Linked DNA regions of Homo sapiens. The protein of the gene in region 1 purifies or fractionates together with the protein of each later gene. This does not show direct contact. Each region holds a gene or a part of one and is shown in the gene's direction. Other genes may lie near its edges.

The links. Proteins that work in one complex are often made in the same cells at the same time.
Region 2: the proteins of DNAJC22 (region 1) and RANBP3 purify together in Homo sapiens (affinity purification with mass spectrometry, with the first as the bait; one large-scale study listed by BioGRID). This does not show direct contact.

Annotation. Positions count from the first base shown.
Region 1 is NC_000012.12:49,349,833-49,352,141, forward strand, and holds part of DNAJC22 (dnaJ homolog subfamily C member 22), read left to right. Parts: coding exon of another isoform or gene 1-25; intron 26-1,329; coding exon of another isoform or gene 1,330-1,368; intron 1,369-1,484; coding exon 1,485-1,670; 3' UTR 1,671-2,309.
Region 2 is NC_000019.10:5,971,610-5,975,267, reverse strand, and holds part of RANBP3 (ran-binding protein 3), read left to right. Parts: intron 1-836; exon of another isoform or gene 837-918; intron 919-3,658. UniProt on the Homo sapiens protein: Acts as a cofactor for XPO1/CRM1-mediated nuclear export, perhaps as export complex scaffolding protein. Bound to XPO1/CRM1, stabilizes the XPO1/CRM1-cargo interaction. In the absence of Ran-bound GTP prevents binding of XPO1/CRM1 to the nuclear pore complex.

The DNA of each region.
Region 1 (2,309 bases):
ACAATGGGCAAAGGTTACAGATGCTGTGAGTAGGAAAAATATATGTGTATATTATTTACTTTTTATTGAGGTACAACATATATAAATTGCACTAATTTTATGTATACCTGACTCAGATCAAGGGATGGAACATTTCCAGCACTAAGAAGTTTCTTTTATTCCCCTTCTCAGCCTATACTCCCACCTTCAGAGGTCATTTCTATTCAGACTTTCGTCACCATACATTAGTTTTGCTCATTCTTCTTCTTCTTTTTTTTTTTTTGAGATGGAGTCTCGCTGTGTTGCCCAGGCTGGAGTGCAGTGGCACAATCTCAGCTCACTGCAACCTCTGCCTCCTGGGTTGAAGCGATTCTCCTGCCTCAGCCTCCCGAGTAGCTGGGACTACAGACGTGTGCCACCACGCCCGGCTAATTTTTGTATTTTTCATAGAGACAGGGTTTCGCCATGTTGGCCAGGCTGGTTTCCAACTCCTGACCTCAGGTGATCCACCCACCTTTGCCTCCCAAAGTGCTGGGATTACAGGCGTGAGCCACCGTGCCCAGCCAGGTTTGCTCATTCTTGAGCTCCAAATAAGTGGAACCATCCCGTATGTGTTCTTTTGTATTTGGCATCTTTCATCTTTCATTCAACATCATGTTTATGAGATGTATTCCTCTTGATTCTTTTTTTTTTTTTTTTTTTTTGAGATGGAGTTTCACTCTTGTTGCCTAGGCTGGAGTGCAATGGCGCGATCTCAGCTCACTGCAACCTCTGCCTCCCAGGTTCAAGTGATTCTCCTGCCTCAGCCTCCCGAGTAGCTGGGATTACAGGCATGCGTCACCACGCCAAATTAATTTTGTATTTTTAGTAGAGACGGGGTTTCTCCATGTTGGTCAGGCTGGTCTCGAACTCCCGACCTCAGGTGCTCCACCCGCCTCGGCCTCCCAAAGTGCTAGAATTACAAGCAGGAGCCACCACGCCCGACCATTATTCCTCCTGTTACTTGCAATTGTAAATTGTTTGTTTTCACTGTTGTGTAGTATCCCATTGTATGATTATACCACAGTTAATTTATTCACTCTATTGTTAATGAACATTTGGGTTGTTTATGGTTTGGGGCTATTATAAATAAAGCTGCTATGAGCTTTCTTGTACATGTCTTTGGTGGACATATATACATTTATGTCTTTTGTGGGGAAGAGATCTTGCCAGGGATATGAAGTTCCAGGTTGGAAAATGGGCAGTTGTGGTTAATGGCTCTTGCCATGAGATCTAGAGCTTGTCTATGTTTCAAAAGGCTGGAATTCTTTTTTCTAAAATAATTTTTTTCTTTTATTATTACTCTATAAGGCTGGAATTCTAACCTGAGCTGCTGGACCTTTCCCACGGGCAAGTAGAAGCCAATTCTAGAGATATGATAGCCTGATTTAGCAAAGGTGCAAGGAGAGGCCCAGGTACCCTGACAACTTGGGGGATTCTAATTTGTCATCTTCTGTTTCCATAAGGTTTTGGGCCTCTCAGAAGGGGCAACAAATGAAGAAATACATCGGAGTTACCAGGAGCTAGTGAAGGTCTGGCACCCAGACCACAACCTGGACCAGACAGAGGAGGCACAGAGGCACTTCCTGGAGATCCAGGCTGCGTATGAAGTCCTGAGTCAACCCAGGAAGCCCTGGGGATCCCGGAGGTGAAAAGAAACTTCCCCCTGAGGACTGACTCTTCCTAGCAGAGCTGGGCAACTTGTCCCAAATCTAGCTTTGCCCACGAATGGCATCCCAACAGAGTTAAAGAAACTGCTTGCAGGGGCTGGGCGTGGTGGCTCATGCCTGTAATCCCAGCACTTTGGGAGGCCGAGGCGGGCAGATCACGAGGTCAGGAGTTCGAGACCAGCAGCCTGGCCAATATAGTGAAACTTCGTCTCTACTAAAAATACAAAAAATTAGCCAGGAGTGGTGGCAGGCACCTGTAGTCCCAGCTACTTGGGAGGCTGAGGCAGGAGAATCACCTGAACCTGAGAGGCGGAGGTTGCAGTGAGCCGAGATCACGCCACTGCACTCCAGCCTGGGCAACAAGAGTGAAACTCCGTCTCAAAAAAAAAAAAAAGAAAGAAAAACTGCTTGCAGGGGACATGAGAAAACAATGGGGTGAGAAAAGGTTGTGGTAGAAGGATGTGTTTATATTCTGAATTTCTGAATTCTTGGCTATTGCATTCTTGACAATTTTTCTTAAAACCAGAGAGTGAAAGGCATATTATAAAACAATCAAATATCTTTTAGAGTATGGACAACTATTATATATCAATAAAAAATTAATTAGAAAAAATATATCTT
Region 2 (3,658 bases), on another chromosome or scaffold:
GTTCTGGGATAACTGTCCTCAGGAAATCAAATCTTGGTGGACTTTGTGCCTCATATATCCCTGCCGTCCTTCAATCAGTCATTGTGTGTTTCTTGAACACTCCATTTCTGGTTTTGGCTTGTACAGCCTGCCAGGATGTTTAATTTGTTATTCACTGTGTAAAGTGGGGCCTCCTTGCCTGTGCCTTTTGAAGCTTTAGGGGCTGCCCCATGGTCACGTGTTTGTTCTTGCTGTTTAAGCTCTAGTCAAATGCCCTCTTGGCTTCTGCCTTTCCAGACTGAGATCATAAGTTGCTCCACCCTCACACCCAGTCCCTCCTCCATCCATTTGCCATCTCTCTTCTCTGGGCCAGTCCCACCTCTGTGTCAGGCTGAGCAGCGGCTGTCCACCCGGCTGGGCATCAGTACCCCCTGGGGAACTTTCCTGAAACCGCAGATGCTCAGTCGCCACGCCCTGCAGATTCCGATTCTCTCTGGTGTTGGGTGGGTTCTGGGCCTCTGTACAGGTGGCAGCACAGGTGATTCTCATGTGCAGGCAGGGTTGAGACCCGCTGGTTTGAGTAGTAGAGGGTAGGTGTCCTCTGCTTGTATACGAGGAAATGTTTTCTGTTGTGTAAAGCATCTTGTTGGCCCTCGTCACCATGGTGAACGCCTCATGGATGGTGACAGCAACTCTCACAGCCCTTCCTGTGGTCTGGGACTTTTAAAGTCCACCTGAGTGCTTTTCCTCTCAGACAGTGTGTGTGCATGTTTCACCCTTGCATCCAGGGATAAGTCTCCCCTGCTTGGCATTTCCCCATTGATACCTCCCAGACTCATTACTCATCCTGTCTCTAGGGTTATGCTGCATTGTAGGCTGACATCAGGATTTGAAGGCAGAGTTTTGTCCCTGGCAAAGGTAAAGAAGACTGGAAAGAGGGTGAGCAAAGCACATTTGAACTCCAGGGAATCTTGGATTCTAGATCCTGACATGAAAGGCCCTGTTGGCCTGTGGACATGCGTGGTGGAAACCCGGGAGACAGTGTGAAGCAGGGCTCTCACCTTTGTGTGGTGCAGTTGACGTTTTGATGGCTCTCTTTGGCGGGAGGGGCTGTCCTGTGCGTTGCAGGATCCTTAGCAGCACGGTAGCATCCTTGGACCTACTCACTAGATGCCAGTAGCACACACCTCCCCTCACTCGCGGGGTCGTCATGACAACAGAAGAAGTCTCCTGACACAGCCCCTGGGGAGTGGGGGTGGGGAGGCTGCAGAATCGCCCCCAGGTGAGAGACTCACTGGTATCGATGGTGGGGACACAGGCTTTGGTCCTCAGAGAGCTGGGTTTGTGTTTTAACTCCGCTGTCCACTCTGAGTCATTTGGGGCAAATTTCTTAACCTCTTTGAGCCCCCCGTTTCCACACCAATAAAATGGGAATAATGGTAACCACACCCACCTCGTGGTTGCTGTGAGCATTGAAGGAATGAGTGCACATACATTGTTTAGCACCAGTCTCTGCTCATAGTAATAAACACTCAGGTCACTGTTTTTACTACAGTGCACTCTGCTCTGGACACATTCAGCTGAAGGGTTCAGCAAAGTCTCCATTGTGTGGGTGAACCTGCCCCACTCAGAGTTGGCCCTGGGCTGAGCCCCTGGCAGAAGACCAGCAGGGCCTGGGCTCTGGGTCCTCCTAAGTTCTGTCCTGCCTGTCACTTAGTGATCTCAGGGATCCCAGCCTGAGCACTACAGACATCTGGGGCCAGGTAATTCTCTGTTGTGGGCGATTGCGCTGTGCACTGTAGGATCTTAATGAGGATCCCTGGCCTCTACCCCACTAAATGCTAATAGCACATCCCCCTCCTCATCCCCGCCAGTCATGACAGTGGAAATGTCTCCGTCCCAGTGTCCCCCCGGGGGCAGAGTTGCTTTCAGTTGAGAACTACTGATTTAAAAGCCTGACCAGGTATGAGTCGAGAGATTTTTGAGGGTGGTTTGGCTTCTCTCAGCTTGCACCTTGTTGACTTAAAACCTAGCCCCTGAGAGGGTGAGATGCAACTGAATTTTTATTGGTTAGCTAGAACTGAAATAGTTGGAACCTATCTTAAACAACTTTTGGAAAGTTTCTCGTGAATTTATTATAAAAACTAATTCTGGGATTTTTGCTTAGAGCAGAATGTGTGCTTTCACCTCCACTGTGCCTCCTGTATCTGTAGCAGAAGGGGCCTGATGGTACCCAAGGGGTATCCAGGCTGCAAAATCTTTATACTCTTTGAAGAGACTTTCCATTTTGCCCAGGATCCTGCGTATAGACAGAAAAGCCCTCACTGGGCTTCTGCAAAATGTTTCAAACAAGCCTTCAGCCTGCCTCTCCGTTTACCAGAAAATGGGATTTTCCCGGCACCCTCGTGCATTCATTAGGTGTTAGGGTCAACCTGGGTCTGGTGTGTGCTCCTCCTCTGAGGTGGTCAGAGTGAGCAGAAGCAGCAGGAATGGGGTGAGCTTCGAGTGGCATTTGGAGGAGCTTGGGGTGGAGAAGGGGGGTTGAATTCTGCCCTCCTACGTGAGTTCAGACAGTGAATAGGCCTGGGTGTAGTGGGAGACGAAGGCCATTTGGGGAAAGTTGAGATGCATTTGGGGAATCTGAGAAGAGAGCGCCGTTCCTCAAAACTTACCAGAGGACCACAAAACTGCCGAGATGGCTGGTATTGGCTTGGCTGGGCATTTGGTAGCTCTCCATGGTACTTTGAAGCAATCGTGAGGCAGTTGGGCTTGCATCATTATCTATTCAGGGTCTGGTGGTGATGTTTTCTTTGTTTTAGGGGGTCCTGGTGGAGCGGTGTTCTGTTTGACTCTGCCCTACGCAGTAGAGAATAACGTGGCCTGGGACATCAGGGTAAAGCTCCTCACCACCACCTTCCACATGTCCACAGTTTGCTTCCTCCTCAGTAGTCTTGGCACTTAGAGCTGCCACACAGCACTAGCTATGGATCTCAGCCCTGGATGGGCTTCACACTTGTTTAAGGAGGTTGTCAGGGAAAATCAAAACTGCTGCCTGGGCTGCACCATTGGAGATGGTTCCAGGAGTTCTAGGGTGTCTGTGGTTTTAAAGAGCTCCACAGATGTTTAACAACATGAAGCCAGAGTTGAAAACCACAGGCAGAAGTTGCAAACTTGCCTGAAGGGCAAGCAGACATATTTAATTTGGCCCATTTAGGTTTTTGTTTGTAATTAGGAGCCAACACTTAAAATTCTGAGATTTCAGAGGGGAAAAAAATTGTATTTCTGATTTCTCTCAGAAAACAGCAACCACCCTTGGCCTGCATTCTTGCACAGCAGTGATTTTTCAGTGCTAAGGAACAGCTGCGCCTGTGGATAGATTAGATTGGATATTGTGGTCTCCGCCATGTTACTTGGGGCCTAGCCCACTTCCTTCTCTTCCAGTGCCTGTGACCTTGGTTGGTATTTGGGTTTCAATCCTATTATACAGACTCCTAGACTCTGCATTCTCTACACTTAGAGTGCTCTTTAGCTAGAACCTTAGCATAAAGCACCTCATGGTCTGTAATTTAGGATTTAGTGTCCTTGGAATGCTAGAACTCAGATAGCATATGGCAGCAGTTCTCAAAGATGGTCCGGGGCCCTGCAGTCCCCAAGACCTTTTCAAGGGGACTGCAAGTTC